Linked DNA regions of Homo sapiens: region 1 is linked to region 2. Evidence: fine-mapped expression QTL. A gene starts in region 2. The other region holds a variant in brackets. All regions are shown on one strand. Distances are from middle to middle. Region 1 has its middle 120 kb from the start of GFRA2. Region 2 holds the start of FGF17 (fibroblast growth factor 17).

Region 1 (5,368 bases), 370 kb after region 2:
GCCACTATCTATGGGGGACAGGCCCTCACCAGCCATTCAATCTCCTGGCACCTCAGACCTCCCAGCCTCCAGAACTGTGAGCAATAAATTTTGTTGTTTATAAATTACCCAGTCTAAGGTATTTTGATGTAGCAGCCAAATGAACTAAGACACCCTGCATTAAGCTGCTGCAAGCTACCGAGTCCGGCTATATGCCCTGGGGTGTTTGAGGATCTATATCCTTGCAACTCCCCCTCCTTTGTCTTAGCTTATAGGAAGCACACGCTAAACTTACTTGTAACTTGACTTCCTTTGTTCTCCTTTTGCTTCCCCAAACCACCTACAGTAACGCTGAGCAAGACCAGTCCTAAACGGATGTTCAGGAGATTCTGAACTTAGATCACATGTTTAGTGTGTCCTGCTAAACTTCCTCAATTCCCCTTATGTCAGTACAAAATCTCAAATAATAGGAGGAACTAGAAAAAACTGGGGTAAACTTTGGCCACTAAATACTATTATAGTAGGGATGGCCGCGGTGAGTTCAGGTTAAACACAAACCACACCGTTTCCTGTCACACACCTGCCCCAGCCTCGAGACCCTCCTGCAGCTAGAACAAATTCCCTCTCCCTCATCAGACCACCTCCTTGAATGAGAAGACAATATTGCCAAGAAGTCAGTACTCCCTAGGTAATTTATACAAGTATATTACTCCCAGTAATATACCTACAGGTTTTCCCCCATGCTCCACTCCCTCGGAACTAGACAAGGTAGTTGAAAGTTTATATGGGAATAGAAACAAGCAAGAAATATGAAAAATATCTTAAAAAACAAAAAGCAGCAGGCTAATGAGTGGAGACTAGCCCTACCCGACAATTTGGAAGTACTATTGCCTGGATAGTGAAAGCAGCGTGGCATTGGCATGGATGGATACACCAAAGGGGTAGAACAGCAGGACCAAGACAGCCCAGAAGCAATGTAAGAATTAGGAAGTGATACGGAGAGGCAGATGGCATCTCAAATCTATGTGGTAAACATGAATTCTTAATAAAGGGTATTGGAACAATACAGTAGCCATTTCTGGAAAAAGATAAAATTGGCTCTGTACTTAATATCATGCATGGGGAAAATCTCCACATGGAGCAACAATTTAAACATTAAAAGCAAACCTAATAATGCTGCAGGGAAACTTGGAGTTCACTTTGGATGGGGATAGACTTTCTATGATTCAAACCAGGCACGGTGGCTCACACCTGTAATCCCAGCACTTTGGGAGGCCGAGGCAGGTGGATCACCTGAGGTCAGGAGTTCGAGACGAGCCTGACCAACATGGAGAAATACACTACTAAAAATACAAAATTCGCCGGGCATGGTGGCTCATACCTGTAATCCCAGCTACTCGGGAGGCTGAGGCAGGAGAATTGCTTGAACCTGGGAGGCGGAGGTTGTAGTGAGCCGAGGTCACGCCATTGCACTCTAGCCTGGGCAACAGAGTGAAACTCCATTTAAAAAAAAAATGAAGAATTTTGACTATATAAAAATAAAAATGATTTCTGCATGCCCAAAACACCACATGTGGAATCAAAAAGCAAGTGATACTGAAGAAAAACGAGTGAAGAACGTGAACGTTGAGTTCACAGAAAAAAAATGCAAATGCTCCTTCATCATTGGAATGGAATAGATGTGCAACTCATTCCTAATGAGAGAAATGCAAATCAAAACCACACTGAGAGACACCATTTCTCATCCCTCTGATTGGGCAAAAATACAAAAATTTGACAAAACACAGTGTTGGCAAAATTGTGGAAAATGATGTGATCTCTGCTATTGCAAGCAGAGCGTGACATGGAAGAACTCTATGGAAGGAACGTTGGTAAGGTCCAACAACATCATGGATGCCTTTACCCCTCCACCCACAATTGCACTCTAGGAATCTATCCTACAGGTACACCTGCACACGTATGAAATCACATGTGTACAAAGTCATTCATTGTGGCATTGTTCATAATAACAGAAGTCTGGAAAGGACCCAGCGTCTGTGCACCGGGGACTGCATGAAGTGTCCTGGCACATCTACCCAGTGGAAAACTCTGCAGTGGAGAGAAAGAAAGAGGAAAATCTCCATGTATGGATATGTAGACAGTCCCAGGATAGTTTGCTAAGTGAAAGAGGGAGGGACAGAACGTATAAATAGTATATCTTTTGTGAAATATAAGAAATAAGAATATATACATGTATATTCATTTGTGCTTGCATTTGCGTAAAGAAACATGGGGAAGATAAACAAGTGGATCGAAGGGTATTCTGTGGTAGAGCAGGCCAGGGTTAGGGAGCTGCAGGAGCCTGGATTCTCTGGGTTTATCTTTGTATGGAATTTGGAATTTGATGAATACAGATATATTACGTGACTTAGAAACCTGTGTTACAATCTGGCCAGATTAGAACAGTGCCATAGGTTGTGTGTCAAAATGAATCCAGAGTCTCCGGCTCATGTTTGTGGTGGGACCGAGGAATGCGCATTTCCCCACAGCCATGAGGTTATTCTGTGGTTTGGGAAGTTTGGGAAACTGTTGAAGCTCATGCTTTTGATGCCACTGAGGTTGCAAGGAGCCAATCAGAAGAGACGATCCCTGTGAAGGTCCCAACACTCACAGTGTCATGGTCCTCAAACCTGAAACCCCATGTCCAAGTCTGACCCCATGTCCACTCCTTCCCCTTGAAACCCTGACCCCACGAGGCCAGGCTCCCACCCCCAGAGGAGCACTGTGCTGTTGGGCATTTGTCTCCAGCAAGCCAAAGTATTTTGTCAGATTTTATTTTCCACAATTTAGAGTACAAAAATGGCACATTTATTTTTGTTTTAAAATATAAAATTACAGTTGAGCCTTGAACAACACAGGGGTTAGGGGTGCTGACTTCCCCACACAGTAAAAACTCTACTTATAACTTTTGACTCCTCTAAAACTTAACAGCCTACTGTGGACCCGAAGCCTTACTAATAA[CA/A]TAAAGTCAACGAACATAATATTTTCTATGTTATATGTTTTACATACTGTATTCTTACAATATAGTAAGCTAGAGAAAAGATGTTAAGAAATAGGAAAGAGAAAATATATTTACTCTTCATTAAGTGGAAGTGGATCATCACAAAGGTCTTCATTCTCGTCGTTTTCAGGTTGAGTGGGCAGGGGAGGATGAGGCTGGTTTTGTTATCTCGGGTGGCGGAAGTAGAAGAAAATCCGTGTATAAGTGGATCTGTGTAGTTCAAATCCGTGTTGTTCAAGGTCAACTGTATATTGTAATCTTTATTTTTATTTATTTTATTTTATTTATTTTTGAGACAGAGTCTCACTCTGTTGCCCAGGCTGGAGTGCAGTGGCGTGATCTCAGCTCACTATAACTTCTGCCTCCCAGGTTCCAGTGATTCTCATGCCTCAGCCTCCTGAGTAGCTGGGATTACAAGTGTGCACTACCACTCCCAGCTGATTTTTGTATTTTTAGTAGAGACAAGGTTTCGCTGGTCTCAAACTCCTGGTCTCAAGTGATCCGCCTGCCTCAGCCTCCCAAAGTTCTGGGATTACAGGCGTGAGCCACCAAGCCAGACCTATAATTTTGAAGACAGTTTTTCAAACTCCTCCTCCTCCCTCTGTAGGGAATCCTGATAGTTCCAATGGATATTCCTTCCCCACTCCCAAACCTCATTCAGGAAAAACTGATGGAAGATGCTTAAAAGAGATCCCTCTGGTGCTTCCTCCCCTCCCAGGAAACATTCCCTCCCCTTTTGTAAGAGCTAATGTAGTAAGAAAACCTAGGCCTGAGAGCTGGATAGGGGTTGCCATGCCAAGTTCCCTCTGGCCCTGTAAAGATTTCTTGAAAATCAACTTGCAAAAAGCAGATTAGTTGGAGAAAAGCCATGTAAATTTATTTAATGTGTGTACATGGAAACCTTCAGAATAAAGACCCAAAGATACAGAGGAAATTGTCCATTCTTAAGCTTCGGTTCAACAAAGGATGGACAGCTGTGTAGAGATATGATTGGACTAAAAGAGTCTGATATAATACTAACAGACTGAGTAGGAAACCCAGCGAGGCCTGTCTGTCTAGATTCTTCCTGGCCTCTTTGAGCAGCTTTCCTTCCTTCTGGGTGTGTGGCAGGCTTTCTCTGGAGTGAGGGTCTCATGACCTACAGTCAAACAAGGTAGGTCAGGTAATTTCCTTATGGCCAGTGTCTACAAAGAAAGGCAGGGGGAAAGTTAGAGTCATATTTTTAGGTTTTATGGCTGGCTTTGAAGAAAAGGGGTCCTGGTTTCTATGACCCAGCTTGGGGAAGAAGGATTCTAGTGTCTCTGGGTAGCCTCGAGGGAGAATGAGACCGGAAGGCAGGAGGGCAGGAGAAGGGCAGAGAAAGACTTTTGCTTCTGAGGCTGTTTCTGAAGCCTTCATTTTGGGGAGTTGTTTTCTGAGCCCCAATGCAGCTAATCTCCATGGAGCACTGCAGGGAGTAACCCATATCATGACCGTGGGGTGGGTACAGGGGATATGAGGCTGGTCTTGGTCCTTTGAGAGAGTCTGAGGCTGTCTCTGAGAGGCTATCTAGAAGTTAGGGAGATGTTTGTTTGGAGCTGGCACCAAGCATTGGCCCTTTAACTCACTTGGCTGGCTGAGAATGCTGCCAGGAGGACCCAGGAGGGCCCTGGGCCCAGTAAGTTTCTAACCAGGCTTTCTGTGGACCCACAGCCCAAGGGACAAGGTAGTGGCAGAGCTGTGCTCTGAGCCACGAATGCTGGCCACCTAGCTCAATGGTAGCACGGGGCCTCTAAAGCTTAGCCCTTTGCCCCATCTCTTTCCTGGCCTTGATTTTCCAGTTTGTTGCTTTTTTTTTTTTTTTTTTGTATCAGAGGACAATGTGTATCTCCTTCCTGCGTCTCCCTGAAGTCCGAAAGGACTAATGAGAGCCTGTCTTGGAAAAACTTGGGGTTCTTGACATGCTGCTAACAACTGGGAATTATGAGACAGAGATTGGATTTGCCAAACCCCAGCCTGTGGTAGGTATTGGGTGGAGGTGTTGGCAAGGGTAGCTCCATGTCTCTCCACCACCCTGCCCTGCCTGGATCCTGCCCTTGACCCATATGCACTGTTGTTTGCAGGTCCTGTTGCCCATGGCAACAATAATGTTGGAGGAGGGAGTAAAGGTAGCCATGAGACCTGGGACACCGCCCCTCTCCTCTGCCAACCTCAGTTTCCTCCCCAGGCAAATGAGAAGCTGCCCTAGGTCATCTCTAGAGGCTTCCCAGCTGGAGCTCTGGTTCCTGCCTGGCCTGCTGCCCAGCACTGGGATCTCTCTCCAGCAGACATTCATGGTGAGGAGAAGCCCCTTGCTGGAGAGGACAGAGC
Region 2 (5,368 bases):
AGGAGCCCTCAGGGTTCTATCCCGTCCTCGTATTCTATGAAGGAGGTGCACGGGGCACACAGCTCATTAGGGACAGAACCCCTGTCCCTACCTCTTAGACCAGAGCCTGTCATCTCCCCCAGAACTCCAAGGACATGCTCCATTAGCCAGGACAACCAGATTCCTTCCTCATCCTCCCCACTGGCCTTGAAAGACCCCTTGCCCAGCACACGGGCACAGAGCAGATGGTGCTGCGAGTTAGGGTCACCAGAGAGCATGTGGGGGACTCTGAAAGCTCCTGCAGGGTCCCATGAGCATTTCTTTGAAGCACTAACTGTGGAATCCTGAGCTCATACCCATCTTCTTCCCGGCCTTGCCCCCTGGTGCTCAGGGCCCTTCCAGTGTTCCTCCCTCCTCTATGGGCTGGAGCTGGGGCTGGGGCTGGGGCTGGGCACTATGGGACAGCAGGCAGGCAAGGTGCCTCCTTAGCGGAGGGAGGCAGAGGCAGTACCAAGAGGACAGGCACTATCAGCGGTGGCCCAATGGCTGCCCCTGGCAGGCAGCTCCTTAGCCACAATGTAACAGAGGCTCCTGGCCAGTTGGTGGGATGCGCCCGCCCACCTGCTTCCCCTTTGGGTTGGGGGAGAGGAACCATTTCCCCCCACGCACTGTGCAAAGCCAGGAGGAGTACCGCCTCCCAGCTAGGTCTCTCGTTACCCATCTGTAAGGCTGAGTGGGAGAGACTGAGTACTTCTTCCCCTCCATCCTGCAAGGTGCGACCCGGGCTAGGTTTCCTGGCTCCTGGCAACAGCCTCAGCTCTAGCATGAGAATGTACCTTTTTTGCTGGTTTTGTCTCCACCTGGATGCCGCTGCCTGTGCTGGGACAGCTTTTCTCAGCCCCTGCCCCAAATCCCTAATTCCACCTTTATCCCAGGCCCAACCTCAGCCATCTGGACAGAGCTAGACCCAGATTAGCATCTGTTAGGGGCTACTCTCTCCTAGGGAGGGGGTGGGAAATATCACCTTTGAGGCAGGGGGAGTGAGGGAGCAGCTCTCAGAGCTGGACATTTAACCTGCGCGGGGTTAACACTTACTGTGCACCGTTGCTCATTTCCAATTGCACCTCCCCATAGAGCAGCCTCTGCCTAGCCTCTGCAAGACCTGCCCCTCGCCCCACCCTGGAGCATTTGGGGTGGGGGACCTGCCCAGCCTGCCCCACGCTGGCCTCCCTTCCAGGGGGTGGGGTCCTGCCTATCCCAGCCCCGCCTCCTGGCCCAGGTTCAGGCCCTCCGCCCCTCTTGGCCGACGGCCTCCTCTGGCAGTCTGTTCCAGGTCAGGAGCAGAAAGCGCCCCCCCGAAGCCCCCTCCTTTCCTCGTCCCCCTTCAAGCTTTTCACAAAAGCAGCCCCACGCCCCCCCACAGCCCACAACCCACAAGTCCCTCTCCCCGCGGGACCTAGCCTGTCCCTTTCATGTTCCCGCTGCGGGAGGACCTCCCCTTCCACCACTGCAGACAGCTGCTTGTCAGACAGCCCCTCAAGCATGGCTGTGGTCCGGCCTGCTGGCCCCCCCTCCCAGGGGGGTGAGGGGGCACTTCAAGGGGGAAAGGACCGCTTTGCCACCTTCCCTGAGTCCTGAATGGGGCCTCAGCCAGGCCATAAACGCCCGGCCAGCCGCACCATTGTGCTAGTTCCCCTCCAGAACAGGTTGGGCCCACCCCCAGCCCCCTCCCAGCCAGGCTGGGGGCTTTCTTCTGGCTCCCCCTGGATGTGTGAAGCAAAAGGCCTGGAACGGGGCTGGAGCAAAAGGGGGAAGGAAGGGGGGGGGAATTGTCTCTCCCTCTCCCACCCCCCCACTGCTTCAAAGGCTGCCCCTTTCCCTCTCCCAGAGAAAAGGCATTTACCTTCAAAAAAAGTCCCCACTGGATATGAAGAGAAGCGGGCCTCTGGCCTGGGAAAGCCAAGCGATCTCTCCCCAGAGCGGTTCTGGACCAGTGCATTTTAATAGCTGCACTTTTATGGAGGATCACAAAAAAGGGAGCAAGCCTCGCACTGGGGGCTGAGACTTGGGGGTGGGAGGTGTGCATGGAGGGAGGTGGGGGGCCGACTTGGGGTGGGGGGAGTGTGGAGAAGCGAACCCTGCATCCCGTCCCAAACAAACCTCTTTGGGCTTGACCTCTGTGCCCTCTAGGTGAGGAGTCACCTCACCCTGGCCAGGCATTCTGGACATGCTCACGAGACCCCCACCCCAGGCATCCATATTGATGGGAGTGGGGTGGCGAGAAGGACATACAAGTGGTCTTGCATCAAAACCTGTCCTTTCAGGTACTGGCAAACCCAAGCCTCACCTGAGCCATCACCTCCACCTGCTTCCAACCGCTCCAGGCTCCATCCCTCAAGTCTGGGGGAACCCGATGGAGAGGGAGGAAGAGGAGCAGAGACCCAGGGGAAGTGGGGAGGGTCCTCAGAGGGAGGACAGAGACAAAACCTCAGTCAGCCCCCTTCCCTGCCCACCCGGTCAAAGGCTCACTCCCCTCCAAACCTCAGTGCCTCCTGGACCCAGGGAGAGGCCAGACTCTGCCTCTGTCCACCTGAAAGGAGCCGGTCCCTTGCACCCGCCCTGGTCAGGTAGGGTGGAAAAATTGGGGGAAAGCCGGTGGGAATGCCCGCCTACCTGAGTTTGACAGCAGAGAATCAGCAGCTGTAAGCACCTGTGTGGGGAGAGGAGGTAAGCCCAGGTGTGGGTGCCAGCTGCAAGCCTAGGGTGCACCCAGGCCCCCGCCCCCGCCCTGCCAGCCCCGTGCACGCACGCGTGGGAGTCCCGGGAAGAGGAGGGCTGCCCTGAGGCTGGAAATGGCAACGAAACTCCAGTGGGAGAGGTAGCACACTTACAGAGTGAGGTTGGGCAGCAGGCGGGCGGCTCCCATCGCTGGAGAGGTTCCTCAGGCGGTTGCCCCCCTGCCCCCAAGCTCAGGAGCAGATGTGGGAAGTCCCCAGGGGTAGAGTCCCAGAGAAGCCAAGGTCTCTCCGAGCCACAGGTTTTCAGGGGGGCGAGGAGGAGAGAAAGGGGAGGAGGAGGAGAGAAAAGAGGGAGGAGGAGGGGGAGGAGGAGGGCGTAATTGGGAGACTGAGGTATGAGGTGTCCACCTTCCTGGCCAGTGAGGCTGCAAAGCAGATGCGGGTGGGGGCGTGCGCGCTGTGCCCTCTGGGCTGCCAGTCTCTCCTGGGCCACCCAGTGCAGGGATGGAGCGGTGGGGGCCTTCTGAAGGAGGTGGCCCTGCTGTCTCCTGCTCTATTCCTGACCCTCACAGACTGGCCAAACTCGACGCAGACAAACTCGATGTGTGGCAGGTCAGGGAGGGGGAGCCCTTCCAGGTCTGCGTCTCCTGCACTCAGGTCTGGCGCCCCACCTCCCCAAGGGTGAGCCGCAGGTGTCAAGTGGGGCTGGGGTCTCTGGTTCTGGCTCTGGAGTGGAAATTCCCAGAAGCAGCCTTAAAAGGAGCCGCCTCCCTCCAGGGGGCAGGGGTGGGCTTGGCTTGGAGCAGCTGATTGCCCGGGAAGGAGGGGTTAAGGCTGTCCTGATCGGCAGCAAATACTGGGCGCAACAGGTTGGGGGTCAGAGGTGGGTTGGCAGGTACAGATGGAGATCTAGGAAGAATCCCAATGGAGAGTTGCAAAAGCTAGCCTGAGACAGACACTTGGAGAAGAGCTGGGTGTCCTGGCCTAAGCCCCTTTTCCTTGGGCCTCTGTAGTTCCATCTGAGAAATGAGGACAGTAATGCCTCAGGGTGTTGGGGGGTCAAGTGTGAAATCAGCACATAGCAGACTTCAAGATGTCTGTGTTCTGAGACCCAGCTCCACTCACCATTCTGCATCCCCTTCCTTCCAGTGCCTGTCCCTAGAGCCTCTCTGAGCTAGGAGCAGCTCGGAGTCCCCTCCCTGTGTCCCATGTCCCTGAGCAGCTGCCTGGGATGAAGTGCCTACCAGCCTCTTCCCATGACCTCCGGTCTCATACTGCTCGGTACAATGCCAGCGACTAGCCCATTTTGCAGATGAGGAAACTGAGGCACATTGGGAGGTAGTTTGCTCAGAATGGCCCAGCTAGTGAATGGAATAGCCAGAATGGAAAAGTCCATGCTTCTTCTGTTCTGCATGGATTGAGTTGCCACCCTGCAGATCCAGCCCCAAACCTGCTTCATTGTAGGGATACAGAAGCCTTCCTGGGTTTTCAGGATTAAAGGTGGAATCCGAGGTCCTGGAGACCGGTGAACAGAGAGCTCCATGCTGTTCCCTCCCTACAGAAAAGTGGATGACGGTGACTGCAGAAGATAGGAGGGCTTGGGGGTCTCTGAGGGAAGACCCAGTGTGAGCAAGCAGAGCTCAGGCCTCAGCTCTGGGCTCCCTGGAGTTCTCAGCGCCCCCAGGGTGGGAAGGGAAGGGGAAGTGGCGGATGTGGATTTATTTACCTAAAGAGATGACCAGGGGAGCGAAACTCTCACCTGTGGGTCCCTTCTCACCTTCCTGAGCTCCATCAATCCACAAAGTGGTCTGCCACCCCTGCCCCCATGCACTGACCAGTGCAGGCAGCTCCGGGGTCTCCTCTCCGCAGGCTCTTCCTCGGGAACCCAGCCCAGGAGTGGGTGCTGCCTGAGCTTGTGTGGGGAGGATGGGGCAAGCCCTGGCCTTGCTTACCTGGGGGAGTCCAGGGTTTTGGAATGCAACTCAAAGAATGTCAAACCTAGAAGGGGTCTTAGGGATTCATCATTTGTTCCAACTTCCTCATTCCTTGGATGAGAGCCAGAGAGGGCAAGGGACTCGCCCAAAGCCTCACAGCTAGCTGGTGGCATGGCTGGGACAAGGTACCAGGTGCCCGCGTGCCCACCTCTCTGCTTTCCCCCTGCGGATCCTTCAGGTCACTTCTGTTCCGCGTTCTTCCCATCATCTGCAGTCTGGGTTACACTCTGCCTCTTCTGGCAGCTCTGGCTCATTCCCTGAGAAACCTTCAACCTCACATCCACATCCTCACCACTCCCAGCCCCCAGGCAGGGCATTAAAGAGAGCACAGACACGTGGAGGGGACAGCTCAGGCCTTGGGTTGGTGGAGGTGTCAGCTGGGGGGCGAAAGGTGGGTAACGGTTCCAATTTATGCTGTCGGGACTCACTGGCCATGGGGACAGTGGGAGCCACTCAAGGCCTCTGAGCCCAAGCACCTGTTTCTATCCATGGGGACAGGGCCTGCCATCACTGGCCCAGCCCTCAGGCCAGCCTGGGTCTCCATGGTAACAGATGCCAGCAGTCAAGCTGGGCCTCGGGGCTTAGCCAGGGGGTTAGCTCTGGGCATGGCTGGATGGCCTGTGTCACAGGCAAGACAGCTGTGGCTCCTTGTCCCTT

The links.
Region 1: its variant is fine-mapped to the expression of FGF17 in caudate (GTEx, PIP 0.96).

Annotation. Positions count from the first base shown.
Region 1 is chr8:21,667,452-21,672,819 of GRCh38, reverse strand. No RefSeq gene overlaps it. Among named protein-coding and RNA genes, the nearest start is that of GFRA2, 120 kb to the left of the region's middle. The variant CA/A (reference allele first, on the strand shown) is at 2,980.
Region 2 is chr8:22,040,466-22,045,833 of GRCh38, reverse strand. FGF17 (fibroblast growth factor 17) reads right to left here and starts at 3,014. Exons shown (of 5, transcript NM_003867.4): 1 at 2,871-3,014; 2 at 2,653-2,689. The coding sequence starts at 2,905. RefSeq lists enhancers at 1-3, 697-746, 1,019-2,256.